Linked DNA regions of Homo sapiens: all the other regions are linked to region 3. Evidence: fine-mapped expression QTL. A gene starts in region 3. Each other region holds a variant in brackets. All regions are shown on one strand. Distances are from middle to middle.

Region 1 (7,535 bases), 26 kb after region 3:
TACTAATAAAAGGATCTCCGTATTGCTCAGATTTTCAGAGAAACAAAATGGTCAACTGGTGTGTTATTCCTTCCTCGTCCCTCTGATAACGGTACTGACAAACTGGAAAATAATGAAATATTAGAGCAAAAGAGAAATGTGTAATAACACAAGAGAAGTCTATTAGGATATAAGGAAGATAAGTAGACAGAGCAGGCTTAAAATGAAGCTTGAACAAGCCATCTGCAGAAACAGAAAACAGGGTAGATGGGACACCCAAACAGGGTGCCACAGCTTTCCAACTTAGATCCAGGTTATGAGAGAATGAGCCAAGAACACAACCTAAAAGTTTTCAATTTGAGGTATATTCACTGTTGCTATTCTATAGTATTAATCAAAATATTATTGACTAATAATCCTGTTATTATTAATCACAACTTTTGGTTTTGAGTCTTAGTTTTTTAACAGCAATATTTTTTGTAACACCAGGAAAATCCTCACAAGTTATTGCCCCAGGGGCTGGAATCTGGAGCTAGCGTCCCTAAGAGACTAATATGGGAGAATTTGAAACATCTGCTATTTCTACCATAATTCTTATTCCCAATCAACATTACACCACATACCACAGCAAAAAGGACAATTAGATACTAGTTTTGAATTAATTTGAAAAGTTTAAAGACAACAAAAAGAAACAGCCCTCTGTTTCTGTAACAGAGTCTGGAAACTGCCCAAGAATTACAACGAAGTTCTTTAATGAGGTAGATGTAATAGGCATTTATACCTTCATCTAGGCTGTAGTCATCTAATGAATTGCTTGGATGTTGTAGTAAAGGAAATTGTATAAAATTGTTTTAAAAAGATGTATAAAATTTAAAAGTACGAAAAGAAATACAGGAACAAGAATAGATGTAGTGAAAACTTGGCACTATTTCTGACAAAGTATTTTTTTCAAAGTTTATTCCTAAATGTGAGCAAAGCAGTCATAAATGAATGTCAGAAGCAGTTGTAAAGATGGGGCATGGTTAGTTGTGGCCAGCTGTTTTATAAAAAATAGATTCTGTTTATACTTGCAGAAAGATTCTGTTAATGAGCATTTCATTGTAGCTGACAAAGTAGTTGGGCTAGGAGGCCAGTCACTATGACTTTGCACATATTACAACTGCTCTAGGCCTCAGTTTTATCACCCATATAAATCAAGGGGGTTGACCAGAAGCTTTAAAACTCTTCTGAAATTTATTATGATTACTATTAGAAACTCTGTTCCCACCAACCTTATCATCAGGGGTTATGGATAAAATAGGAGGCTCTTTTGGGCAGCCTGGTCTTCTAAACCAAAGGACAAAATGCTCTTCCCAAAATCATATGATTTTTCTACCTTGTCTTCTGCCTTTAGTTTCTAATCTTGTCTAGCCTCTTTGTTTGATAGATGAGAACCGAACCAGAGATGGTAAGTGACTGGCCTGGGGTACCAGAGCTAGTAAATGACAAAGCCAGAACTAGAATCCAGGTCTGCTATTCGTTAAGCCTACTGTTCTTTCCCTTAAGTGATACCACTCACTTGTCTTTCATCCCTGACAAAAAACAAAACATAAAACTGTGAGAAGCATCTGTTTAGATGATATCAGTGAGAAGTATAAATTATTTCAAAAATATAAATATGGATGTGATAATAAATGTTAATGCCTAAAAACACTAGCTTAGCAAGTGCATGGCAGACATTTTTCAGCAATCACTGGATATGATCTTGAAGTTAAAGGAATCTCTTAGGATGAGGAGGGGGTGGGGCAGGATACTTTGGAAGACATTTGGAGAATAAATAGAAGATTGGTGGAAAGTGATGAAAATTTCCCAGACCAGAATAGACACTGTGGACTACTAGAGCAGGGAGGGAGAGAGGAGGGCATGGATTAAAGAACTATCTGTTAGGTACTATGCTCACCACCTGGTGATGGGATCTGTACCCCAAACCTCAGCATCACTCAATATACTCATGTAACAAACCTGCACTTGTACCCCCTGAATTTGTTCCTTGGTGTGGGAACAAAAGTTTCCCAGATTAAGGAAATTCAAGGAGCTAAAGTACAGAGAGAAAAAATGGTATAATTTGGCTTAGAGTTAACTGCAACTTAAGTGAATGAAATGCCACATAAATGGGTATTTTACATATTTTTCATTATGTTCTATGACAAGAATTTTGGGGAAAGTGATGGATTGTGCTATCACAAGACTAAAAAGCATCACTACAAGCCACGGACTCCTATTTTGATGTTTGTGACCTGTCTCAGTAATAACAAGAGTCCTAAAACAGTTCAGGTTCATTGTCTCTGTTAACAAGAGTGGTTGGTAAGATTCAAAGGAACCAGTGGAATGTGAATTTTATGACACCATAATTATCTTCATGGGAGAACCACCAAAGTGCAGAAATGCAAATAGAAGAGAAATCTTTAAAAACCAAAGGGTATGGCAAGATAGATTTCTGCTCCTAGAAGCAAATTATTTTATTATAAGGAAGAAATATATTTAAGTAATTGGCTCTCAGCAAGGAGTAAGTGGCTTTTGTTTCTAGCTAATAAGATTTCATTTAAAATCTATTAATTGGGAGAAGAGAATAAACAAAGGAGCCCATACCAATAATAAATATTCAGTTCTTCTGAGGGATATGACAAAATTTTCCTTCAGTACTGTGGAACTCCTGGAGACCTTGCTCATGGTAATAAAGACAAGCCTAGATACCATAATATTAAAGTAATGAACAGGAAATAACACATTAAACACTCCAAGACAAAATAAGAATAAGAAATACATATATATTGAAAAAGTGATAAATGTAGGTATCCTGAGATTCTCAACTATAAAAAGAACAGTAATAGCAATTTGAATAATACACATAAAATCCTTAAGAGTGTCTGCTACATAACAAAGGCATAACAAATAATGGCTATTATTACAGCCAGGATGAAGAATACTAATAAGAGCTTTCAAACTGGACCAACCACTACTTCCGTGTTTCAAGTTCATTTTTAGCACATGAACATGATCACTGTTAGCCAGTGAAGTAGCTTCTGACTAGATCATTGATTAGATCTCACAAAAAACCAAAAATAGTATATGGAAACCAAGATGAGAGCAAAAGAAAAC[G/A]TTACCTGAGTAGGCAGCTAAAACATATTTTGACATTATTTTTAAGCAGCATTCATAAGGTTCACGGAGCACAGATAATAAAAGAAAAAGCAATGTAGAAGTCTTAAAAACCAAAGGAAATTGCTATGAAAGAAACCCTAATGAAAGGTAAGAGATTTCCAAAGGAAACAGAGGGCAGGTGCAGTAGCTCATGCTTGTAATCCCAGCACTTTGGGAGGCTGAGGTGGGAGGATTGCTTGAGCCCAAGAGTTTGAGACCAGCCTGGACAACACAGACTCCATCTCTAAAAAAATAAAATAAAAAATTAGCTGAGTGTGGTGGCGCACACCTGTAGTCCCAGCTACTCTGGAGTCTGAGTTGGGAGGACTGTTTGAGCCCAGGAGGTTGAGGCTGCGGTGAGCCATGATGTTGCACAACTGCACTCCAGCCTGGGTGACAGCGTGAGGCCCTGTCTCCAAGAAAAAAAAAAAGGAACAGAGTCTTTGCATGCTTAATCCATGTTTATCTAATTTTAAAACAATACAAGACTGGTCATCTTTTTATCTACCAACCAAGGGTCAGTATACTTATTTTTATCTTAGTTTATTTCTAGGATGATCTTAATTTCTTTTTCCCTGTTTTATGAAGCATTTAGTTCCTTTCTGTTCCCAGTATGAAATTTATTTTTGAAGAATTCTACTTTTGTTTTCTTTAAAGCCAGGGACTTTTTCCCCTATTAATCTAATCCCAAAAATCAAAGGTGACGAAAAGAAAAGAAAATGCTCCCAGCCGTGGGAGCATATTCGTGGAAAGGACATTCAAGGCTACATGTAGGAAAGGGTAAAATATAAGAAAGATTCCATGCGGACCCTGATGAAGAGAAATCCTCATGCAATTTAATGGCTAAATGTGGAGGAGAAGCAAAGCTCTGGAAGGGTAGTGGGTGAAGATGTAATTATTATGGCTTTTCCTCTCGCTTCATTAATGGAAGTGCTGTTTGTGACTCAGCAGTCTCTTAATAGAGGTTCTGAAAGTTGCCAGATGGCTTATTAACAGATTGATCTATTCCAAATTTGCTCCCTTTCAGACATTCCAAGAGTCATAAATTGAGAAACTTCTATTTCTCAGAAATAATTAATAAGAACTTTGATTTTATTGCCTTTGCCCACTCTCCTGATTCTGTTCCCCTTTTCTTTAAAAACAACCCAAATACATTCCCCATACTACATACTGATTTTAGCAGTGAAATGAAAGAACTCTCTTTATATCTTCCTGTGTAAGGGCTCACAAAAACAGGCCCAGGGAACAGTGACCTAAAATCAGACAAATCCAGGTTCCCAGTCCCCATCACAGTTTCTCCATCCTACTAACACACTTAAGGCTCAAAAAGCAAAATTAATGCCCAAACAGCCTGTGAGGCACATAAAAATGGAAAAATTTTCTATCCTCATCATACCAGGCATCAGATAAGATACTAAAATCTTCCACAGACCATTCATTTAGAAGGGGTTCTAACCTTTAAAATCATGTACTAACATCATCAACACTACGACAGGGATCTTGGATCACACCCATGATGGCTTCTTTGTCAAGGAAGCAAGGAAGTTATATCATTTTGGTGCCTGGAAATTCCTATGTGGTCGATTGAACTGCAAAGATCTTGGATCCCTGTTAAAGGTTGTGGATCTCCACATAAATGATATCTCTGTTACAGAGAAAGAAGGGGCTGCTGCACTTGCTAGAATGTCTCTGGCTTTGTATCAGATGCTACAAATTTCATTTCAACCAGGCTTCCAGTGTGCCAAATGCCAAACTTCATGCTTTAGCAAGGGAAGAAAAGGTGAGATTCTAGGAACACACCAGACCTCTCAGAAGGAGTCGAAGCCTGCTTCACTTGGACAAAGCTTGGTCCCCCGTATTAGCACCAATCTCCTGTCATTTAGTTCCTCACAGATTAAATTATAGCTTCTCTCAGAGAAGACCTGGGTACGGAGAAGGAATTACGGTAGAAAGTAAAGTAGAAATTCCAAGGGCAAATATCCACAAGGTCAGACATCACAGCATCTGAGGCTATATAAGAAAGTGGAGGAATTCAATGAGCAGCAACTCGGGGGTGCTCAAGCTTCTCTAGTCCTGGTCCAGCCTCACGGCCCCACCTGTACTCCCATCATGGGCACCACCTCTTCAAGCCACAGCAAGTCCAATGGAGCTGAGGCTCGTGTTTGTCGGTGGTGAATTCGGCGTAGCCGCAGAAGGTATAGGAAGATGGCCAGTAGCACCACCAGGATACAGGCAAAGAAGAGATAGTGGTTGTATACAAAGGAGAGACGGAACCAGCTACCATGGGCTTGTCGGACACCTTCCTGCCGAAGATCCCTAGGGAAGAATTAAGAATTTGTAGGTGGAAAAAACTGTTAAGTTTCAAAGGGAGACATTTACTGATTTGAAAGGCCCAGTAGTGTTATCACATTTATTCCATCCACATAAACATTTTATGACACCAGCTCCACAGAGCAGGCAAAGCTGAAGAACATCCCCCGCCCCAGGAGCCCTTCTGTGTCTTCCTTCCCACGGCCCCCAGAAGGGACCTCCAGGCTTACACCCTCCAGAATCTAAGCCAAGATGGGAAGGCCTTTGAAATTGAATCCCAAAAAATGAACAGAAAGGCTAGATTGATCACCTGTAACATAAGTCTTAAAATATGGCTTATAAATACAGTACTAATGAGAATAGGGTATCCCCTGAATCCAATAAAGAAATCAGAGTGTGTGTGTCTAAATCCTTTTTTTAAAGTTGCTATGCAGCCAAGTGCAGTGGCACATGCTTGTAATCAAAGCACTTTGGGAGGCCAGGCCAGGAGAATTGCTTGAAGCCAGGAGTTCAAAACCAGCCTGGTCAACATAACAAGACCCCATCTCTGCAAAAGAAAAATCAAAAAATTAGCTGGGCATGGTGGCGAGCACCTGTATTCCCAGCTACTCAGAAGGCTGAGGCAGGAGAATCACTTGAGCCCAGGAGTTCAAGGTTGCAGTGAGCTATGAACACGGCACTGCCACCACACTCAGCCTGGGCAACAGAGCAAGACCCTGTCTCAAAAAAATAATAAAAAATAAAGGTACTATGTTTCCTTAGGATCTAGGATATATCTAAATAAAGCTGTTACCTGATCAACTGTATTACAGTCAGATAAAAATAAGGCGATATGAAAACCAAGTGTAATGGTCCACCTGGCTAGAACAGAAGCCACTCTTCAGCAGTCCAGATCCAGATCTAGTTTTGTCTGGTTTGACCTGCAGTGTTCTTCTAGAATGCGAATCTCTAAACTGAAAGACTTCATAAAAAATATGGATTTCTGACTTTTCTGGACAGATGAGAACTGGCAAATGCTGGGACAGTGCTTGTGTGTGACAGTAACCAGCCCATTAACTGGGATACATGCTCCAGTTGTGGGCAACCCCCACCTAGCCCACTTCCCTCACTTCTGTCGCCTGCCTGGCTGCTGACGGTATTGAGTTTAGAGGAACAGACATCAAAGATACAAAATTCATCTGAGTTTATCTGAAATAGTCCAGGGTACAGGTACCTAAAAATTGTCCCAAATATCTGACAGTACATAAAAGTAAGGTATCAGGCTACCAGAGTTTGATGAAAGTAGCCCCACTAAAAACATCTCACGTCCTTTATTCTAATTCTGACCCACCAAAAAGCCTTCTAAGTCAATGACACAATGTCTGGAGTGCCTCTGTATGTTATGAAAGATTGCTCTAGACATCCTACCCCTGTTCTTTAGTCAGATGTGTTTTCCAGGGTAACCCAAGAATGACATTTTAGCTTGTCAGTATCTTGGAAGTGATTAGTAAGAGCTCAGTCCTAAAGACTGGTTTGTTGTGAGTAAACAAATAAAGCTGGATTTCTGAAACAGCAAAGCTGAGACTCCAGACCAGTAATGCTCAACCTTCTTTCTGTTCGAGCATGCCTGGTAGTAACAGTGGCTCACATGGAAGTAAAGGAGTTTGTTTTTGTGAGGGGGTAGAGAGGAAGGTCACTTAAGACCTATTCTAAGCTGGTTAAAAAAAAAAAGAAAGAAACCGATTCTGAGGCATCAACTGATATCCTCTGAGCTCAAGATACCAGATTGGTCAGTCTTACTTTACCTGAGTGGTAAGAATCGTGTTTTATATAGAATGGCTCCCAGCGTCCACTGAACCTCTCGGTCATACACCAGCTGGGCTGTCCGCAGGTTTGGGTAGTCATAGGGAAAGTGGAATCCTTCATGTAAGACTTGGTACATCCAAGCCGATTTAAAACACTGATATCTGTGTGACAAAAATAATTAAATTTTAAAAAAAGAGAAAAGAATTCTAATACTTTCCTTTGCAATAAGCCACTCCGTATTCCCACAAGTTATTAAAAGACCTACCTCCTCCCGCTTCACCTTC
Region 2 (7,535 bases), 87 kb before region 3:
GGAGAGGTTTTGCTTGTGTTTCACCAGGAGAAAATCAGCTTCCTGTTTGGATACGCACTAGACATTTGAAGTTCTACAATGAACCCATCGGAGATGCAAAGAAAAGCACCTCCGCGGAGACGGAGACACCACAGTCGAGCACCGTTGACTCACAAGATGAACAAAATGGTGACGTCAGAAGAACAGATGAAGTTGCCATCCACCAAGAAGGCAGAGCCGCCAACTTGGGCACAACTAAAGAAGCTGACGCAGTTAGCTACAAAATATCTAGAGAACACAAAGGTGACACAAACCCCAGAGAGTATGCTGCTTGCAGCCTTGATGATTGTATCAACGGTGGTAAGTCTCCCTATGCCTGCAGGAGCAGCTGCAGCTAACTATACCTACTGGGCCTATGTGCCTTTCCCGCCCTTAATTCGGGCAGTCACATGGATGGATAATCCTATAGAAGTATATGTTAATGATAGCGTATGGGTACCTGGCCCCACAGATGATCGCTGCCCTGCCAAACCTGAGGAAGAAGGGATGATGATAAATATTTCCATTGGGTATCGTTATCCTCCTATTTGCCTAGGGAGAGCACCAGGATGTTTAATGCCTGCAGTCCAAAATTGGTTGGTAGAAGTACCTACTGTCAGTCCCATCAGTAGATTCACTTATCACATGTCTGCAGGTGTACCCAACAGCTCCGAAGAGACAGCGACCATCGAGAACGGGCCATGATGACGATGGCGGTTTTGTCGAAAAGAAAAGGGGGAAATGTGGGGAAAAGCAAGAGAGATCAGATTGTCACTGTGTCTGTGTAGAAAGAAGTAGACATGGGAGACTCCATTTTGTTATGTACTAAGAAAAATTCTTCTGCCTTAAGATTCTGTGACCTTACCCCCAACCCCGTGCTCTCTGAAACATGTGCTGTGTCAAACTCAGGGTTAAATGGATTAAGGGTGGTGCAAGATGTGCTTTGTTAAACAGATGCTTGAAGGCAGCATGCTCGTTAAGAGTCATCACCACTCCCTAATCTCAAGTACCCAGGGACACAAAAACTGCGGAAGGCCGCAGGGACCTCTGCCTAGGAAAGCCAGGTATTGTCCAAGGTTTCTCCCCATGTGATAGTCTGAAATATGGCCTCGTGGGAAGGGAAAGACCTGACCGTCCCCCAGCCCGACACCCGTAAAGGGTCTGTGCTGAGGAGGATTAGTATGAGAGGAAGGCATGCCTCTTGCAGTTGAGACAAGAGGAAGGCATCTATCTCCTGCCCGTTCCTGGGCAATGGAATGTCTCGGTATAAAACCCGATTGTATGTTCCATCTACTGAGATAGGGAAAAACCGCCTTAGGGCTGGAGGTGGGACAAGCAGGCAGCAATACTGCTTTGTAAAGCATTGAGATGTTTATGTGTATGCATATCTAAAAGCACAGCACTTAATCCTTTACCTTGTCTATGATGCAAAGAACTTTGTTCACGTGTTTGTCTGCTGACCCTCTCCCCACAATTGTCTTGTGACCCTCTCCCCACAATTGTCTTGTGACCCTGACACATCCCCCTCTTCGAGAAACACCCACGAATGATCAATAAATACTAAGGGAACTCAGAGGCTGGCGGGATCCTCCATATGCTAAACGCTGGTTCCCCGGGTCCCCTTATTTCTTTCTCTATACTTTGTCTCTGTGTCTTTTTCTTTTCCAAGTCTCTCATTCCACCTTACGAGAAACACCCACAGGTGTGGAGGGGCAACCCACCCCTTCACAGGTGCTTTTTGTTTTCTCCACGCTACTACCTGGAGCACATAAAGGCTGATGCAAAGCTTTCAATTGCTCCTTTCTGCTGGTCCCTGATACTCCTGCCCCACTCTCCTGGCCTGGCTCCCAATTCCTGTCACCTACACCATCCTGTTCTTTGTTCCCGCCTTCTCCTTCCAAAGCTACAGACTTCCTGATTTAGATTTTTCTTCTGTCTTTTTTGAGCAGAGATGGGGTTTCACTATATAGCCCAGGGTGGTCTCAAACTCCTGGGCTCCAGTGATCCTTCCGCCTTGGCCTCCAAAGGGCTGGGATTACAGGTGTGAACCACCACATCCAGCCCTGGCTTAGATTTTTCTTTCAAACTCTTGGGCTTCTCAGGGTGGTTTTCTTGTTGTTGTTGTGTTTTGTGTGTGTGTGTGTGTGTGAGATGGAGTTTCACTCTTGTTGCCCAGGCTGGAGTGCAATGGCACGATCTCAGCTCACCGCAACCTCTGCCTCCTGGGTTCAAGCAATTCTCCTGCCTCAGCCTCCCAAGCAGCTGGGATTACAGGCATGTGCCACCATGCCCAGCTAATTTTGTATTTTTAGTAGAGACGGGGTTTCTCCATGTTGGTCAGGCTGGCCTCGAACTCCTGACCTCAGGTGATCCACCCGCCTCAGCCTCCCAAAGTGCTGGGATTACAGGCGTGAGCCATCGTGCCTGGCCCTCCCAGGGTGGTTTTAAACCATTACTTGTCCTCACCTCATGGTCAGAACATGCTGTCACTTGTAGGCTGTGTAGCTACTCCCTCATCTGACTGATTTCTGGAATGCCTCTACAGCCTTCTGCCCTGGCTTTCTCGACCTGAACTCCTGCTGGTGACAACCACCTGAGGGTGATAACCAGACCAATGCACAGGACTGCTGTTGGCAGGTCCTTGGGAAGGGTCACAGTAAACAGAGCTCCACTGCTGACTGGGGCTAACTGGTGAACCCAATGGTGGTGATATTAGAGGCTGTTGCTATGGTATACTCTGAGACTACGCAACTGCCATAATTTTTTTCTGGTTCAAACACCCAGTGGTTTTGGTATATTAATCAAAATCCCTTTGTTAGGATCTACCAAGAATTTAGCAGTACACTAATAGTGCCAGCCCATGAAGCTGTCGAGGAAGTGGTTTTAATGGATTTGGGGTAGATGGGATGACATGTGTGACTAGAGTCAATAGGAACATGGCATCCCTAAAAGAGGGACCGTTGTGCCACTGGTGTTTCTTCCACAAGGGTTACTCACTCAGACTTTCAGTTGTACCCTTCTAAAGAGTGTCCTTTGATTGTGTGTCAGACATCAGATGAGCAGGATAAGTCACCAGTTTGGCCCAGGCATAGAGTTTCAATTTCTATGTTTCCTCAAAGAGACACAGAACCCAGAAAGCAGAGTTTGAATCTCTGGGTAGTTTGCTTCCAAATCTAGTTCACTGGATACTGAGCAGTTCAGGAATTAGATATTGATTTACCATTCCACCCATGGCCCAAGTTCTATCTTGTCCCAATCCTTCTTACATACCTGTGGCTTCCTCTTCAGGGCCTGTATGTCTTAGAAATGTCTTCAGATTCTTAGCAAACTCTCCTTTTTTGGCCAGGAGAGCACTGTAGGATCCTTTCTCTACAATTGTTCCATTCCCCAGAACTACAATCTCATCCACTTGAGGAAGAAAGTGCATGCTATGTGTAACCAAGAGTCGAGTCTATAAAAATAATATGAAGTTGTGTTGATTACCATATGTCCACCATCTTCCCTGTCTTACTTGCCAGACATGTCCTCCCCTCTCCCTCCCACCCCACCTTTATATCTTCATCATGTTCAATGATTTCTCACCTTGCCTTTCAACAGGCCATTGGGGCCCAAGACCTTATTAAAAATATGTTTTCCTACATGAGCATCCACTGCAGACAGGGGGTCATCTAGAAGATAGATGTCTAAATTTTGGTAGGTAGCTCTGGCCAGGCTGATCCGCTGCTTCTGACCCCCACTAAGATTTATACCCTGAAGAAGAAAATAATTCATATTAAGCACTACTCCCTAGATCCACCTTCACAGAATCTAATAGGGAGGGGTAAAAGGAAGAAATTTGTCTCAATAAGGTGTCAAGGGGTTAAAAATCTTACAAGTTCCTTTATACAAATAAAGAACTGATTCAAATAAATAACTTTAGTCCTAATAATTAGATATGGCCAACTTACCACTTTTTATCAGATAATTTACTTATTTAATAGTTTTGTTGCTTGTCACCCTGTGACAATGTAGAGCAGAGGTTTTTTCTATTTTGTTCATGGATGTAATTCCAGAACTTAAAACACTGTTTGGCACATAGTAGGTGCTCAATAAGCGTATGCTAATTAATGAACAAAATTACTCCAGAGCTGTATCTTCATTAATCTTCTAACATCTCAAGATTTTTGTTCCCCAAGATTGCTACATTTATTTCTAGTAATGGGGAGGGAGGATGAAAACATCCTAAATATGCAGGGTCTTTATTTAGAGGTTTCAAAATAAATTATGCTAGATCTATATAATAAATACAATACAGTCATTAAAAAT[C/A]TTTTTTTTTTTGAGATGGAGTCTTGCTCCATCTCCTAGGCTGGAGTGCAGTGGCGCAATCTCAGCTCACTGCAACTTCTGCCTCCCTGGTTCAAGCAATTCTCCTGTCTCAGCCTCCCGAGTAGCTGGGACTACAGGCGCCTGCTACCACACCCGGCTAATTTTTGTATTTTTAGTTGAGATGGGGTTTCACCTTGTTGGTCAGCTGGTCTTGAACTCCTGACCTCAGGTGATCCACCCACCTTGGCCTCCCAAAGTGCTAGGATTATAGGCGTGAGCCACTGTGCCCAACCCTAAAAGTCTATTTTTAGGAAAGGCCTTTAATAACATCAAAAGATAATTCACAATAAACATCTAAGTGTTCAAAGCAGATTAGTAGAATCTTCCTCTGGCCTCACTGATACAGAAGTAGAATCAGGACACCTAGGCTCTGGTCCCACTTCTGCCCCACCACCTGTGAGATCAACCTTGGGCCAGTCACTGTTAACTTCTCATGGCCTTTGCCTCATCATCTTTGATTTAAATTACATAATTCCTGTATCTGTTTCCAAGCAGAAAGTTTGAAATTCTGAGTTATTTACATGGAATATTGTGGCCACTTAGTACAAACACATGATTTCTGGTGTTTATTCCAAATATGACTACCTAAATTAATCAACTAGATTACCCCTGTGTAGTTCTTCACCACCATCCTCACTTTTTCTCTTCAATATGCCTTCACCCTTGAAGATCCCTTGTTATCCCAAGTACCTTCTCTCCAATCTCAGCCAAATCTCCTCCAGGCAGCATTTCCAAGTCTGGGAGGAGAGCACAGGCCTCCAGTACTTGCTGGTACCTCTTTTCATTAAACTCTGTTCCAAAAAGGATGTTGTCCTTTATGGTGCCATTCTGAATCCAGGACTGCTGTGGGACATAGGCAGTGGTGCCCTAGATGAAAAAGGATCAGATCATGTTACAGCTGCACCTCCAGAAACGCAGGGTTGAAGGACGGGGTGGCTGGAGAGGGGAAGAAACAAATGGAGCTTAAATTTAAATAACTGTGCATCAGGATGACTGAGGATCTGATATGTATTCACGTGCTTGTAGTTATTCCACTCTCAGGACTCAATATCCTCTTCACCATTAAAAGCCCCATCCACTTTTGTTGGACTATCGTTTTTCAGCCATGATCCTGAAAATTAGATGATAAATGTGTGTGATGCTTCTAGAAGAGGGTTTTAGTCAAACCCAATTGAGTTTACTAGGACCAACGAAAGGCTAACACTGACAAGGGAATGGTATAGATCAGCGGTCCTCAACTTTTTGGCACCAGGGACCGGTTTTGTGGAAGACAATTTTTCCATAGATGGGGTGGTGGTGGGAGATGGTTTCGGGATGAAACTGTTCCACCTCAGATCATCAGGCAGTAGATGCAACCTAGATCCCTGGCATGTGCAGTTCACAATAGGGTTCATGGTCCTATGAGAATCTAATGCTGCTGCTGATCTGACAGGAGGTGGAGCTCAGGTGATAATGCTCGCTCGCCGCTCACCTTCTCCTGTGTAGCCTGGTTCCCAACAGGCCATGGAACAGTACCAGTCTGAGGCCCACGGGGTTGGGGACCCATGGTATAGATGACATCTTAAGAAGCAAGATTATAACCAAAGAGAGATGGAAACTGGGCGCGGTGGCTCACGCTTGTAATCCCAGCACTTTGGGAGGCCGAAGTGGGCGGATCACCTGAGATCGGGAGTGACCAACCTGGCCAACATGGCAAAACCCCATCTCTGCTAAAAACACAAAAAGTAGCTGGGCTTGGTGGCACAAGTCTGTAATCCCAGCTACTCGGGAGGCTGAGGCAGGAGAATCGCTTGAACCCAGGAGGCAGAGGCTGCAGTGAGCTGAGATTGGGCCACTGCACTCCAGCCTGGGAGACAGAGTGAGGCTCCATCTCAAACAAACAAACAAACAAACAAAAAACAGAGATGGAGGCCGGGCGCGGTGGCTCACGCCTGTAATTCCAGCACACTGGGAGGCTGAGGCAGGTGGATTACGAGGTCAGGAGTTCAAGACCAGCCTGGCCAAGATGGTGAAACCCTGTCTCTACTAAAAATACAAAAATTAGCCGGGCATGGTGGCATGTGCCTGTAATCCCAGCTACTTGGGAGGCTGAGGCAGAGAATTGCTTGAACCCAGGAGGTGGAGGTTGCAGTGAGCCGAGATCACGCCACTGCACTCCAGCCTGGGTGACAGACTGAGACTCCGTCTCAAAAAAAAAAAAAAAAACAAGACCAGAAATGGAGACCAACAAAGGCCTGTGTTTGAGGAAGAACCCAGTTATGAGTTAGCAAGAAAAAAGCTTCCCAAAAGGAGTTAGAAGACAGACTTAAATCTGTAGCCTGCTCTGCTATAGCGCATGTTTTTTAAATTGCAGATTAGTTCATTAGTGATTGCTAAATCAGGAAATGATGTCAGTATATGGTAGAACAGCTGGTTCTTACATTTTTTTGTCAAGCAGGTCAATATAAATCAATTGGAGGAAGCATTCTCATACTTAAAAAGAAACCCTTAGCAATATATATATGAAGATCTTAAGAAAAAAAGCTGAAAATCTATAGATACTCCTCTGTTTGGTACAAGTAGTGATAACAATTCAAAAATAACTATAATTTTCCCTAAATTTAGCTCTCTGGAAAAGTTCAGAGTACTGATGAAGATGCCATGAAAACATTTTCCTCCGTTAAAAAAAAAAGCATAATTAGCCAGTCCCAGTGGCTTACCCATATAATCCCAGCACTTTGGGAGACTGAGGCAGATGGATCACTTGAGGCCAGGAGTTTGAGACCAGCCTGGCCAACATGGCAAAACCCCGCCTCTACTAAAAGTACAAAAATTAGCCGGGCATCATCAATGATAGACTGGATAAAGAAAATGTGGTACATATATACCATGGAATACTATGCAGCCATAAAAAGGAACGAGATCATGTCCTTTGTAGGGACATGGATGAAGCTAGAAGCATCATCCTCAGCAAACTAACACAGGAACAGAAAACCAAACACTGCTTGTTCTCACTTATAACTGGGAGTTGAACAGGGAGAACACATGGATACAGGGAAGGGAACAACACACACCAGGGCCTGTTGGGGAGTGAGGGGCGAGGGGAGGGAACCTAGATGACAGGTCAATAGGTGCAGCAAACCACCATGGCACATGTACACCTATGTAACAAA
Region 3 (7,535 bases):
AGGCATGAGAATCGCTTGAACCCAGGAGGTGGAGGTTGCAGTGAGCCAAGATTGTGCTACTGCACTCCAGCCTGGGTGACAGAGTGATACTCTGTCTCATTCCTTCTTATGCTTCCAGATCTCTCCAGTCCCTACCGCTGGCTCCCCAATGCCTTCTCCTCAACCCAGAGTTCCTTCTGGCTTCATCTCTGAATAAAATTTTTCAAGGAACATTTCCATGATTTTTTCTGTCTCCCAAAGTAGAAAATTTTATGTCCCTCTTTTGAACTCATTTAACTCTTCATGAGTTATGAAACCCCAATTGTTCCTTCTTAAAATATGAATTACTTTCTACCTTTTATTATTTATGCAGATAAATATCTGATCACTTCTACTTGACTTAGAGTTCCTAAGTTTGTTTTTTTTTTTTTTTTTTTTTTTTTGATACAGAGTCTTGCTCTGTCGCCCAGGCTAGAGTGCAGTGGCATGATCTCGGCTCACTGCAACCTCCGCCTCCCAGGCTCAAGCAATTCTTGTGCCTCAGCCTCCTCAGTAGCTGGGACTACAGGTATGTGCCACAACACCTGGTTAATTTTGTATTTTTTGTAGAGATGGGGTTTCGCCATGTTGCCCATGCTGGTCTCAAACTCCTGCACTCAAGCGATCTGCCAGCCTCGGCCTCCCAAAGTGCTGGGATTATAGGCATGAGCCACCACGTCTGGCCTCCTAAGTAAGGTCTTTATGTGAGAAATCTTTATCATCACCCACACCAAGCACAGTATCTACCATGGTACACAATAATCAAATATTTACTAAAAGCTGAATAATTACAACAAAATTAATGTATTTATATTACAAAGTGTGATGTAAACAGAGTTTTGAGTTTTTTTCCGGGAGCACATAATTTAAAAAAATGAACGAAACAATGCACACTTCATGTAATGACACTTACTAGAATGTTCCTCACATACTGGTAATGGTCACTTCTGGTGGGGTGTGATTTGAAATTATTTTTATTTTCTTCTTTTTACTTTTCTTTATTGCTTTATTTTTTCTACCCAATATTGCTTTTATAATTTAAAAAAGCAATTTTTACTTTGAAAAACAAATAAAACAAAAACCTATCATCTGCTAACATCAAACTGCAATTGCCTTACTTATTTAAGACTATCAGTCCCTGTCCGGCGCGGTGGCTCACGCCTGTAATCCCAGTACTTTGGGAGGCCAAGGTGGGCGGATCTGAGGTCAGGATTTTGAGACCAGCCTGGCCAACATGGCGAAACCCCATCTCTACTAAAAGTATATAAATTAGCCGGGCGTGGTGGCGGGCGCCTGTAATCCCAGCTATTCAGGAGGCTGAGGCAGGAGAATTGCTTGAACCTGGGAGGTGGAGGTTGCAGTGAGCTGAGATCAGGCCACTGCACTCCAGCCTGGGCGACAAGAGCCAGACTCCGTCTCAAAAAAAAAAAAAAAAAAAAAATACTATCAGTCCCAAACTGTGAAAGGGTTAAGTGTCAATCTATGCTCTTAACCAACAGCTCTGCATTATTAACTCCATGAGTTTCCTGGTAGCTACCAGACCAGCTGTCAGATCAGTGGCACTGGCCGATGCTGATGCTGCCGGGGGACTATTTGCCTCACACAAGAAAGGACCCTAGGCAGGAGAAGATGGAGAGATGTATAAAAAAGGCTATGACAGAAGGCAGAGCAAGGCAGTTGTCCCAAGCAACAAAGTTATAGGATCAAAGGAGAAGCAGCAGCAGTTCTCAAAGTGTAGTAGTCCAGAGAGCTTTGGGAGCCTCTGAGACTTTTCAGAGTCTGCAGGGCTACAACCGTTTTCTTAATAATTCTAACACTTTATTTGACTTTTTCACTTTAATTCTCTCACAAGTGAGAGGCGTTTTCTTTTTTGAGGCAGAGTCTCACTCTGTCACCCAAGATGGAGTGCATTGGCGCGATCTCGGCTTACTGCAACCTCCGTGAAGAGGCGTTTTCAAGAGGCTACTTGACATGTTAGACTGAATGAAGCAGCGGGCATGAGAATCCAGCTGTCTTCCATTAAGATATACTGAAGAAACTTGCAAAAATATATTTCCACTCTTTTGCTTTTTTTGTTGTTGTTGTTTAGGAATATTTCTTTTTCAAAAAAATATTATGTCAATATGTAATGGGTTTACTATGGTTATTTTCTAATCAATATTTTAAAATTTTGTTTTAATTTTATTTTTATTTTTTTGAGACGGAGTCTCGCTCTGTCGCCCAGGGTGGAGTGCAGTGGCGCGATCTCGGCTTACTGCAACCTCCGCCTCCCGGGTTCAAGTGATTCTCCTGCCTCAGCCTCCCGAGTAACTGGTATTACAGGCGCCTGCCACCATGCCCAGCTAATTTTTGTATTTTTAGTAGAGACGGGGTTTCACCATGCTGGCCAGGCTGGTCTCGAACTCCTGAGCTCAGATGATCTGTCCCCCTCGGCCTCCCAAAAAAAAATTTGTTTTAATTTCTAATACAGTCAAAATAGATAGATGTAATCCACATAAAGAAAAAATCTTTGAGGATTCTTGATAACTTTTAGGAAGGTTCCTCTTCACGGAGGAAGAGGGACTTGCCAAATTCTCTGGCACCTGCCATGCCATGCTACCCTGGCACTCAGGAAGAACTCGGGTCTTGGAGCAGCCACAAGCTCGGCCACTTGGTAGCTGCGTGACTTTGGGGACCAAGCCCCGTCCCCGCCGTGGCAGCTACAGGTAACTGCAGGTTAGGAACTGGGCTCCGCGCTCGACAATTAACTATCCCAGCGGAGTACTGGCTGCTGGTGCGGGCGGTACTGGCATCCTCGTGTGGCGACGGAAAAAACGTGAAGCTGAAGTTAACCAACTTGCACAAGGTCGCAGGGCCGTTATGAGGGGACCCCGGGACTCGAACCTTGGCTCCACAGCTGAGCCATTCTCGCTACCTGCCCCTCGTCACGCCCTCCGTTTCCACACCTTTAACGCCTCAAAGATAGAAGGTGCCGCCCAAGGGGCTGGAAGGAGCTGAGGAAACGACTCCAGAAGAAATCACCACTGACTACGACTCCCGCCGGCCCGCCCCGGGGAGCCTTCGGCCGACCGTCCCCTCCCCCGCCACCTTCCGCACCGGCCTTCCCGGACGGTATCCGCGCTCGTTTTCGCTCAGAGGAGGCCCCCTGCCTTTTCATGCTCCACGCGTTCCTCCCTCGTGCGCCTGCAGTTTCCACTTGGAATTTGGGCTCCGGCGCGCACCAGCTAAGAAGCGCGTCAACAGCTGCGCGCGCCCGTGCGCGCGTCCCCGACACCTACGCCCCAGCAGCCCCCGCGAAAGCGGAGTCGCAACGCAGGCGCACTTCTGTTCGCTCCGGTCCCCAGAGAAGGCGGGGCTCCCGCTGCCCGACCCGGAAGTGCTTCTCTTTTCCTTGGCGGAGGAGGGAGACCACAGAGCCCTGGGTTGTGGAAGAGGTGGCTGTTCCCTGTCATCAGTATGCAGCGATTGCTCTTTCCGCCGTTGAGGGCCTTGAAGGGGAGGCAGTATCTGCCGCTCCTGGCTCCTAGGGCAGCGCCTAGAGCACAGGTACCGCACTGCAGCGGACTCCGAGTCGCGGGAGCGGGGATGGAGTGAAAGGGCCGGGATAAAGATAATGTAGAGCCCCACATCACGTTTCCGGAGCTCCTTACAGTGCACTCACAACGCATAGGTTCAGATCAGAGCCCCTAGGTTCAGATCTGGAACATTGACCTGCTGTGTGGTATTGGCCAAGTTAATTAAACTTTCTGTTCTTCAGTTTCCTTATCTGTAAAATGGGGATAACAATACCTACTTTAAGGTTTGTTATGAGGATTACATTCTTTAATATACATCAGGCCTTTAGCACATGGTAAAAGCTGAGTAATTTTTACCCATATAGTTTATTTTTGCTTAAAAAGTTCCAAGTAGTCAGATGAGGAAGTATTACTGCATCCTACAGAGAAGGAAATTGAGGCTTAAAGTTACTTTTCTAAAGGTGACTCAGTTAATCAGAAATAGGAAACCGAGCATGGATCTTTGGACTCACAGGGATATAGTAAGAAGAGGGCATGCATTTGCTTAACTAGTAATTATTGAGTGGTTATTATATATTAGGAACTGGAAAAAGAAAGATAAATATTACAAGACTCCTGCCCTGGAGGAAGTCAGTTTATTCATTTGCGAAATCCTTATCATGGTCTCATTATATAAAGGAACAGTGTTAGAAACAAAGCTAGCAGAAGGGAGAGAGCAAGACTGACCGGACACTGCCACCCCAAAGCTCATAGTTTAGTGGGAGATACAAACAGATGAACCTGAAGGTAGAGTGATGTGCTGCATAACAACATTTTGGTCAACAACAGGCCACAGATACAGTCATGGTCCCATAAGATTATAATGGAGCTGCCTTTCCAAGTGTACCTTTTTTTTAAAAAAAAATCTTTTTCTCTAAATTTCTTTTTTAGAGACAGCGTTTTACTTTGTCACCCAGGCTGGAGTGCTGTGGCATGATTATAACTCACTGCAGCCTCCAGCTTGGAAATCCTGGCCTCAAGCATCCTCTTACCTCAGTCACTTAAGTAGCTAAGACTACAAGTGTGTGCCACTGTGCCTAATTTTTGAAAAAATAGAGATAGGGGGTCTCGCTACATTGCCCAGGCTGGTCTCGAACTACTGGCCTCAAGTGATCCTCTCACCTTGGCCTCCCAAAGCCTTGGGATTATAGGCTTGAGCCGTTGCACCTGGCCCCATTTTTAAATCTTTTATACCATATTTTTACTGTAATTTTTCTATGTTTAGATAAACAAATACCATTGTGTTACAGTATTCGGTACATAATATGCCATACAGATTTATAGCCTAAGAGCAATAAGTCATACCATATAGCTCAGGGGTGTAGTAGGCGATACCATCTAGATTTCTGTAAGTACTTTTTTTTTTGAGAGATGGAGTCTCACTTCATCGCCTAGGCTGGAGTGCAGTGGTGAGACCTTGGCTCACTGCAACCTCTGCCTCCCAGGTTCAAGTGATCCTGCCACCTCAGCCTCTCAAATAGCTGGGATTACAAGCATACACCACCATGCCCAGCTAATTTTTGTATTTTTGGTAAAGATGGGGTTTCACCATTTTGGCCAGGCTGGTCTTGAATTCCTGACCCAAGTGATCTCCCTGCCTCTGCCTCCCAAAGTGCTGGGATTACAGGTGTGAATCACTACACCCAGCCTTTAGATTTGTGTAAGTACATTCTATGAGGTTCACACAATGATGAAATTGCTTAAGAATGCATTTCACAGAACATGTGCCCCTGTTGTTAAGTGATGCTTGACTGTACATTACAGTGTATTAAGGGCTTTCCAGTGTGCTGTGGGAGTGACCTATTGCAGACCTTGAAGAGCCTGGGAATACATCCCAGAGGAGGTGACATGTAAGCGGAGATCTGCAGTAGGTATTATTAATCAGGGGAAAGGAAGTGTACAAGCCAGAGAGAAATGTTGAAAGACCTAGAGGTGAAAGAAAATATTCCATATCTGTAAGTAGAGTGAAGTCTGAGGGAAGTATTCAGAGATGAGAAGATTCATGTAGTTGGGGATAGGTTTGAGTGAGGCTAGATTTGAAAACCAATTGGAAAACCAGTTGGAAGGCTGATGCAGTAATCCAGATAAGAGATGATGACTTAACAAGACATGGCTGTGGGGATGCTATGGTACTTCGCGCTAATCAGAATGGGGTTGAGTGTGGGTAGCAGCCATTCCCTGTTTCTCCAGTTGTAATTTGTCTATCTTGATCTTTAGTGTGATTGCATCAGGCGCCCTTTGAGGCCAGGGCAATACAGCACCATCTCTGAAGTAGCTTTGCAATCTGGAAGGGGTACAGTGTCCCTTCCCTCAAAGGCTGCTGAGCGGGTGGTGGGCCGATGGCTCCTGGTCTGCAGTGGAACAGTGGCTGGAGCAGTTATTCTTGGTGGAGTAACTAGGTAAGTAATTTGCTCGTAGTGAGTCAGGTATTTGGATCATCAGTAGAAGCACAGGTTGACTGAGGAGAAAGGATTTTTTTTTTTTTTTTTTTTGAGACAGAGTCTTGCTCTGTTGGCCAGGCTGGAGTGCAGTGGTGTGATCTCGGCTGACTGCAACCTCCGTCTCCTGAGTTCAAGCGATTCTCCTGCCTCAGCCTCCCAAGTAGCTGGGACTAGGCGCGTGCCACCATATCTGGCTAATTTTTTGTATTTTTAGTAGAGACAGGGTTTCACCATGTTGGCCAGGCTGATCCAAACTCCTCACCTCAGGTGATCTGCCCACCTCGGCCTCCCAAAGTGCCAGGATTACAGGCATGAGCCACCATGCCCAGCTGGAGAAAGGAATTTTACAGAGCATCTAGTCTAGCTCCCTCATTGTATAGATGGAGAAACCGAGGCCTTAAAGAAGGAACATGTCTGATGGCTTGCCCTGCCATAGAACAGTTGAGTGTTTTATTAGTAGGAGCCTTCTATAAAGACTGGTTTATGTCTTAACTGGTACCTGTGCATTGTTTATGTATCTTTTCTCTTTCAATCAGAGTCCAAGTTTGTCTCAAAACTTTTTTTACAGTTTGTTTGAATTAAACCCAAAGAAGTTCTGTACATCACAATTGGTTCATGTTTCTTAGGTTTGTTTAAATCTATCAAGAGACTATAGATTTAGACACTCCTCCCTTTCCCCCTCTTCTAGTTGCTGAGGAAACTCTAGTCATTTGTCCTATGGTTATGCACAGTTTAGATTTTGCTGACTGCATAACTGTGTGATATTTAACATGTTCCTTTGTCCCGTCTATTTCCTGTGAATGAGTAGTTGGTTGATCAGATTCAAATTAGGGATGAGGGAGCAAAATACTTCAGTAGGTGAATAGAACATTCGTGAATATCTGGTGTCTATTATAGATGTTAACAGCCATTAATTACCATTGCCTAGATCCATTATTTCATTAGCGTAGCAAAATTATAATATTTTATTAGCTCAACTCTAAAAAGCTTTCCCTCATCATCAGTTTGGATATCCCAAGGTATAGTTTGTATAGGAAAGGCAGGATACATACTTGATTCTTCTTTCCCTTTATTTACCAATTTTCAAAATAATAAATTGGTCCCCCAAATCCTCCAAAGGCAACAAATAAAGGATTTGAATTTTTAAGGCTCATTATGAGATCATAGGTTCAAACACACTCGATAATGTTTCGGTCCGTTGTGATGATGGTGTTAGTGATTTGCTCAGATTGTCCCATCTTTAGTCAGTGGGCATCTCCTGAAATTGGCTCTAGTGACTTTTTGGCAGGGCCCTAATTACCTTTGATAGTTTCCTTACTTTCTAGTATGACAAGATGTTCCGAGCTCATCTTGTGCATTTCTTGCCTCAGGCCTAAAATCAGGCTTTTACTCTAGGAATCCTAATTCCTTTTGGTAAAAAAGTTTCTAGTTTTAATCAAATGTGTCTTCCTCAAATTCTCTTCACATTCCACGTCCCTTATTTCAAAATACCTTATGTGTTATATAGGTTGTTATGAGCAAG
Region 4 (7,535 bases), 130 kb after region 3:
TGGCACATGCCTGTAGTCCCAGCTACTCAGGATGCTGAGGCATGAGAATCTCTTGACCCCAGGAGGTTGCATTAAGCCAAGGTCGCACCACTGCACACCATGCCACCACTGCATGACAGAGCGAGACTCTGTCTCCAAAAAAAAAGGGCTCCAGCTTAGAGCAAATACTCTTTTTATCTACTTTTTAATTTTTATATAATTTCACACTTTTACAGAAAAGTTGCAAAAACAGTATATTCTTTACCAGATTCACTAATTGCTATAATTTTGCCCCATTTGATCTATTGTCTTTCTATCAATCCATATATGTGCATACACATATTTTTTCTGAACTATTTATGCCCCCTTTATCCATAAATATGTCAGTATTTCCTAAGAACAAGAATTTTCTCGGCCAGGCGTGGTGGCTCACGCCTGTAATCCCAGCACTTTGGGAGGCCGAGGCGGCCGGATCACGAGGTCAGGAGATCGAGACCATTCTGGTTAACGCGGTGAAACCTATCTCTACTAAAAATACAAAACAATCAGCCGGGCGTGGTGGCGGGCGCCTGTAGTCCCAGCTACTCGCGAGACTGAGGTAGGAGAATGGCGTGAACCCGGGAGGTGGAGCTTGCAGTGAGCTGAGATCGCGCCACTGCACTCCATCCAGCGTTGGTGACAGAGCGAGACTCCGTCTCAAAAAAAAAAAAAAAAAAAAAAAAAAAAAAAAAAAAAAAAAAGAATTTTCTCTTACATAACCCCAACACATTTATGGAAATCAGGGAATTTGTAACATTGATACAAAATGCTTATCTGAGCTATAGTTTATATTTAAATTTCACCAATTGCTCCAATAATGTCCTTCATAGCTGGTTTTTTTCTGATCCAGCATCCAATTCAGGATCACACATTGCATTTACTGTTCATATCTCTTTAATCTTCTTTCATCTAGATCAGGTTCTCAGCCTTCCCTTATCTTTCATGAACTTGCTTTTTTGTTTGTTTTTAGATTACAGGCCAGTTGTTATGTAGAATGCCCTTCAGTTTGGTTTGTTTGATGCTACCTCATAATTAGATTAAGGTTATAGTTTTGGCAGGTGTACCATAGAAATGATATGGAGTCCTTTTCAAGGCAGTGAGGTCAGTGCATCCCTTTATTGGTATTGTTAACTGTGATTAAATGGTTATGGTTGTGTTCATCAGAGGAACTCACCATGGAGTTACTAATTTTCCCTTTGTAATCAATAAGTTATTTTCATGGGGGTGCTCTGAATCTATGTACATATCCTCTTCTTTATCAAACTTCTATCCACTAGTTTTAGCATCCATTGATAATTCCTGTCTAAATCATGGTTGCACAAAGATGATATTCTGATGTTATCATTTCTGCTATAAGAGAGAGCTATCCCTTCTCTTTTATTTATTTATATTCGTATGAGCTCATAGATTATTTTATTCTATGGCTATTCTATAGTGATATTACCACTGTAATATTGTGCTGTAATACCACTGTGATGATAATAAATAATTACCATTATTTATGCTGATGTTCGAATACTCCCAGATTTGGCCAATGGGGGTCCCTTCTGATTCCTGTGTTCTTTTTCTATATCTCCATTTTTTAAAAAGCACTTCCTTGCTTTCTGGCACAACACGATATTCTAAGCTTATCTTGTACTTTCCCCCTCTCAGTCCTAGAATTAGTCATTTCTCCAAGGAGCCCTAGTTTTTTTTTTTTTTTTTTTTTTTTAGTACGAAATGGTATTTAGAAACCAAGATCCAAGTGCCAGGTATACTCAATGCTACTGTAGTGTCTACTTCTAGGCCCTTTAGCCCACAGAGCTAAGAAATATACATATTTTATCTTAATTTCTACATCTGTACACACAGACACACACACACACACACAAAATCATGGATTCATATAGATACCTCCAGTTCCAACTCAACACCACAAAATTCATTTTAGTCCTCCCTTTCTCCATATTTATAACTCTCCTCTCCAACAGCAAGAACTAGCTTCCAATATCCTCAGTACATTTACTCATTTGTGCAACTCTACAGCACACAAAAGGTATTTCAGAATTGCTCACCCATATCACTACAGAAAAAACTCCTTCTAACTAGAATTAAATATTTGTTGGGCTTGTTTATTTGGTTTTTATCCTCCCTTCAGCATCGCAATATTATTTGTTTAAAATAGAGTTATTTAAAATGAGTTAAGTTCATTCCTTTTTTTTCACGTCAGGTAACATGCTGATGTCTTAAGGTTTGAAGGAGGCACATCTCACATGTGTGTGAAAACCCAAATCATCATGTTCACGGGCTACAAAAGGATGCATTTGTTTCTATTTGTATTCCATTCTAAGTTTCTTCCCCCTTCTCATCCTTGTTGACTTTTTTTTTAGTGGAGCTTGTGGATTTTGTGGATGGGCTTTACCGGGTCTATAAACCCCTCGGAGTTTTATGCAAAATATTGAATATGTCTGCCTTTGGAGCAAGGGTAGAGAATCCATAAGATTCTTAAAATGATCTTTAACCTCAAAATTTAGGAGCACAATAGAGAAGAGCAGGAATCCAGGGACCCTCTAAGAGGCTTCCCACTAGTGGGGTAGGAAGTTCTGCCAGACTGTGAGACTCTCAGGACAGACAGGATCTTCTTTATCTTATATGTCCACTGCTGAGCATGCACATAAATGCAGAGGGAACAGAAACCAAAGGAAAATGGAAGAGAAATGTGGGAGCAAATCTGTACCTTGAAGCAAACTCAGGATTGCTCTTTCTTTCTAAGCATTTCCCCACCAGTGACATCAGCTCAGACGTCTTAGATTCTGGTCCTCCCAGGGCATGCCTAGAACCACACCATGGTGGGGGTGGGGACACAGCCTGGGCATCTGTCTATAGGCATACATAGAAAAATAAACTAGGCCAGGCGCGGTGGCTCACGCCTGTAATCCCAGCATTTTGGGAGGCCGAGGCAGGTGGATCACAAGGTCAGGAGTTCAAGACAAGCTTGGCCAAGATGGTGAAATCCTGTCTCTACTAAAAATGCAAAAAAAGTAGCTGGGCATAGTGGCGGGTGCCTGTAATCCCAGCTACTGAGGATGCTGAGGCAGAGAA[C/T]TGCTTGAACCTCGGAGGCGGAGGTTGCAGTGAGCCAAGATCACACTGCCACACTCCAGCTAGGGCACAGAGCAAGACTCCATCTCAAAAAAAAAAAAGAAAAGAAAAATAAACTAGGCTGGGCACGTGGTGGCTCACACCTGTAATCCCAGCACTTTGGGAGGCCGAGGCGGGCGGATCACCTGAGGTGGGGAGTTCGAGACCAGCCTGACCAATGTGGTGAAACCCTGTCCCTACTAAAAATACAAAAATTATCCAGGCGTGGTGGCACACACCTGTAATCCCAGCTACTCGGGAGGCTGAGGCAGGAGAATCGCTTGAACCCAGGAGGCAGAGGTTGCAGTGAGCCGAGATTGCGCCACTGCACTCCAGGCTGGGTGACAGAGCAAGACTCTGTCTCAAAAAAAAAAAAAAAGAGGAAGAAAGAAAGACAGAAAAAGAAAAAGAAACTAGAAGAAAAACCCCAGTTCATTGCAAAGATAACTGACCCAATGCTCTGATTTACTCCCTGCACAGGTTTCTTTTGGCTGCAAGGCCCCTGCCAAATTGGAGAACAAGAGCAATTATACCTGAATAGAAAAGCCGTGAGTCATGAAGAATTAGTCCCCTGCAGGCACTAACTGAAAGCTTTCCCTGGGTATGGTGGGAGGTAGGGACCCCCACTGACATCTAAAGCAAGATTTTTCATTGAAGGGTGGCACTGCTCCTTGGGGAGCTTCTGCTGCTAGAGAGGGGCCTAGGAAGGCAAACAATAAGGTGAGGGACACTTGGTCAAGGAATATTCTCCCTGGATTGCCTCCTTTAAACAGTATATTCCACTAGGCACAGGTGAAGACAGAAGAAGATGCAGTCCCTGCCACAGGGCTGAAAGAACGTTTAGAAAATCAAGCGTCAGCAAAAGCCAAATTGTACAACACAAACCGAGCCCACACTAGCTGAGTGATCTGTGGGGTGGGGTAAATCAGAGGAAGCTCCCAGAGGAAGGGGTATGAATTTTGAAGAAGAGTTGAGCCTGAAAAAAGAAGAGAGGTGAGACAAGGGCACTCCATCTGGCAGTCATGGCTCAAGGAAGAAGCGGAGGTATGGAGGAGAGGCGGCTTGATCCTGAGAGCAGAAAAGGGAGGTCTTGCTTCAAAGACCAAATTGGAGGGGACTGGAGTCCTGTGCCTGTAAGAGGCATTGTTCTTCAGGAGGAAGAGATCGTGTGTGGGGCTGACTTGAGGAGTAAGGAGGATGGCAAGAAGTTACTGAGGTCCCCTGGGACCAGGGATGGAAAAATTTACCTGGCTGGACAGGTGACTGTGGGATCGTGTATTAATCCTATCTGCTAGCAGATGAATAAAAGATGAAAATAAGAATTGACACTTTATAATACTCTGTGCACTTATATTGCATTTTCACGTGTAGCATTTTTACAAGCAACAATTGAATTATAATTCTTGCACATCTATTATGTGCTGATCATTGCAGGTAGCTGCTCAGGTGAGCCTCACAACCACTCTCTGCGGGAAACATAAAGGAAGTCATGTACTATCACTTGATATCATGTGCTCTAAATTTGCTCAAATGTTGAGTCTCATGAGAACCCTATGAGTCAGATGTGGCAGGAATTATTATTCCTGTTTTATAGATGAGAAAACTGATGTTGAGAAAGGTTAAGGCACTTGCTCCCAGTCATATAGCCAAGGACTGTCAGCCGGCCCTTTTTGACTCATACTAAGATCTTAATAGCTTACTTCCACTTTGACTTCATGTGCACAGTGTTAACAGTGACCTCCATGTTTTTGTAATGCCATTTTGGCCTAGGTCTGCTGCCCACTTGAGCTAAACACTCTCAATTCCTGGCATTGATTTACCAAAGTTTAGTAATTCAGCTTGTTGAGGGTCTCAAGGTCACCATTATTTCTTCATGCCAGGGCTGGGTCTCAGGAAAGCAAACAAAATGCTGACGGTCACTTGGAATCTGAGCAAGCAAGGAGGCTATCCCCGGGGAGACAGCTTCCTCAGCCCTGTCTGCCACATACTCCTGCCAGCCGCTGGGAATCCACTTCCACTGCCCAGCCGCCTCCAGCCATCAGCCTACTGTCAGAATCCAAGCACCAAGCGCTTCTTTCCCTTTTCCGCAAATCCTCCCTTATCCAGGATGATGAGCTGCTTCTTTCCATTTTTCCAACCCACACAATTACATTGCCAAGATGGTCCTTGCAGGTCTCATCTCCAGGACGTGAGAACTTAAGGCTAAATCCTGAGATTCCTGCTTTATCTTCTGCCTAGCTCACCTTATTCTAAGACTGCTTTCCACAAATCTCAGAGGTGGCTACAACACAGTGCCAGGGGCAGGGTGGGGTGAGTGAAAGGCCCATACATGGCTCCAGAGGAGGCTAGTGGGAGCAGGAAGACATCCAAAGATATGTGGGGGAGTGAATGCTACTTCTTAGCTTCCAGTGAAGATCAGACACTGTAACTGTTCATATCATGTTAATGGTTTGACAAGGTTTCTACCTAAGAACAGGACATCAAAACAGGCTCTGGAGCAAGGGATCAGATTAGGAACTTGAGTCAATGTCGTGTCTCACAGGTGTTCTCAGACAGATGACTATATCCTTCCCTGGGTACTTGCAGGGTAAGCACATCCCCTCGAAATAGCAGCAGCTCTAAACATGAAATTCTTCCTGGAGGATTTTCTTACTCTTGAGTTCTATTCTACCAAATTTTTTGAGCACTTACTGTCAGGCATTCAGAATGTGAGCAATGACAATAATTTACCTACACTTTTGCACTTACAGTATGCTGGGCCCAGTTGATTCTCAAAACAGTTCTGGGAATTAGCTATAAAAATGCCCCCATCTTACAGATGAGGAAGCTCAGGCTCAGAAAGGCAAAAAAAAAACCATGCCTGAACTCACACAGCAAGAACATGACAGAACAAGCGTTCCAACGCAGGATTCCAAAGGTAGTGTGGCTCGCCAGTGCCCCTCAGGGTCCCTAAGAAGTGAGAAGCAGTCCTGCCTGCAGGAGCCCAGTCCCAGGGGTGAGACTGATTTGTAAAGAGATCATGAGACGTAAGTGCTGTAATAGAGGCATGAGGAAAGTTGTTTCCATTCTCTTTCTGCCTGTTCCTGGAGTGGTGCTCACGGGAGGGGACCCAGGACCTTTGGAAATGTAAAGTGTAATACTTAGGTTTTTGTAATTGGTCACTTCTTTGCTAGCTGTCAGAGGTTCAGGAGGCCAGTGAGGAGTGGCCGGCTTGGAGGGTCCTTGTGTTTACATGACAGCCCAGGGCTGTCATATCCATTGTCTCGTGTGATCCTACCCTGCTGCACTTGCTGTTCCCTCTGCAAGGAACGCTCTTCCCCAGATACCACCTGGCTCACTCTCTCTTTATCTTTTATTTATTTTACTTTTAGATAGATGTATTTTTTGAGACAGGGTCTCGCTCCGTTGCCCAGGCTGGAGTGCAGTGACACAATCTTGGCTCACTGCAACCTCCATCTCCTGGGTTCAAGCAGTTCTCATGCCTCAGCCTCCTGACTAGCTGGGACTACAGGTGCACACTACCATGTCCGGCTAATTTTTACATTTTTTGTAGAGACAGGGTTTCGCCATGTTGGGCAGGCTGGTCTCAAACTCCTGACCTCGAGTGATCCACCTGCCTCCCAAAGTGCTGAGATTACAGGCATGAGCCACTGCAACTGGCCTGTTTATACATTTTTTGTTTGTTTGTTTGTTTTGTTTTGTTTTGTTTTGAGACAGAGTCTCGCTCTGTCGCCCAGGCTGGAGTGCAGTGGTCTGATCTGGGCTCACTGCAGCCTCCGCCTGCTGGGTTCAAGCAATTCTCCTGCCTCAGCCTCCTGAGTAGCTGGGATTATAGGTGTGCACCACCACACCTGGCTAATTTTTGTATTTTTAGTAGAGACAGGTTTTCACCATGTTGGTCAGGATGGTCTCAAACTCCTGACCTCATGATCCACCTGCCTTGGCCTCCCAAAGTGCTGGGATTATAGGCATGAGCCACCGTGCCCGGCCTATACATATGTTTTTGAGAAAGGGTGTTGCTTTGTCACCTAGGCTGCAGCACAATGACGCAATCACAGCTCACTGCAGCTTCGACTGCCCTGGCTCAAGTGATCCTCCTACCTCAGCCTCCCAAGTAGCTGTGACTACAGGTGCAAACATCATGCCCAGCTAATTTTTTAAAAATGGTTTTGTAGAAATGAGGTCTCCCTTATGTTGCCCAGGCTGGTCTCAAGCTCCTGGACTTAAGTGATCCTCCTGCCTTGGTCTCCCAAAGTGCTGGGATTACAGGCGTGAGCTACTGAGCTTGGCCTGGCTCACTCGCTCACTTCTTCCTGGTCTTGGTTTCAGTCTCACCTCCCCAAAGAGATCTTCCCCAAATTCCTTATCTAAAATAGCCTCCCCTACCACTCTATCCCTTT

Which allele goes with the higher level. Positions count from the first base shown, and alleles are read on the strand shown. Sizes are in standard deviations (SD) of each study's normalised expression. Not every link is listed here.
In carriers of allele C in region 4, the expression in B cells of the gene that starts at base 3,397 in region 3 tends to be lower than with T alone (moderate effect, 0.59 SD a copy in Schmiedel 2018).

Evidence for each region. PIP is the estimated chance that this variant, and not a neighbour inherited with it, causes the effect. A credible set is the group of variants that fine-mapping cannot tell apart.
Region 1: its variant is the best candidate, but not a certain one, in a credible set for the expression of COX15 in whole blood (TOPMed, PIP 0.84).
Region 2: its variant is the best candidate, but not a certain one, in a credible set for the expression of COX15 in whole blood (TOPMed, PIP 0.82).
Region 4: its variant is the best candidate, but not a certain one, in a credible set for the expression of COX15 in B cells (Schmiedel 2018, PIP 0.54).

The regions. Positions count from the first base shown.
Region 1 is chr10:99,702,389-99,709,923 of GRCh38, reverse strand. ENTPD7 (ectonucleoside triphosphate diphosphohydrolase 7) reads right to left here. Exons shown (of 13, transcript NM_020354.5): 12 at 7,251-7,412; 13 at 1-5,472. The coding sequence ends at 5,241. It also overlaps a transcript of COX15 not described here. Among named protein-coding and RNA genes, the nearest start is that of COX15, 26 kb to the left of the region's middle. The variant G/A (reference allele first, on the strand shown) is at 3,118.
Region 2 is chr10:99,815,023-99,822,557 of GRCh38, reverse strand. It overlaps ABCC2 (ATP binding cassette subfamily C member 2), which reads right to left. Exons shown (of 32, transcript NM_000392.5): 17 at 5,074-5,250; 18 at 3,601-3,768; 19 at 3,289-3,469. Among named protein-coding and RNA genes, the nearest start is that of ABCC2, 36 kb to the right of the region's middle. The variant C/A (reference allele first, on the strand shown) is at 4,324.
Region 3 is chr10:99,727,989-99,735,523 of GRCh38, reverse strand. COX15 (cytochrome c oxidase assembly factor COX15) reads left to right here and starts at 3,397. Exons shown (of 9, transcript NM_078470.6): 1 at 3,397-3,564; 2 at 5,790-5,971. The coding sequence starts at 3,475. CUTC (cutC copper transporter) reads right to left here and starts at 3,290. Exons shown (of 9, transcript NM_015960.3): 1 at 3,115-3,290. The coding sequence starts at 3,175. RefSeq lists an enhancer at 3,476-3,695.
Region 4 is chr10:99,596,562-99,604,096 of GRCh38, reverse strand. It overlaps LOC124902589 (small nucleolar RNA U13), which reads right to left and starts at 2,317; the gene lies at 2,217-2,317. The variant C/T (reference allele first, on the strand shown) is at 3,100.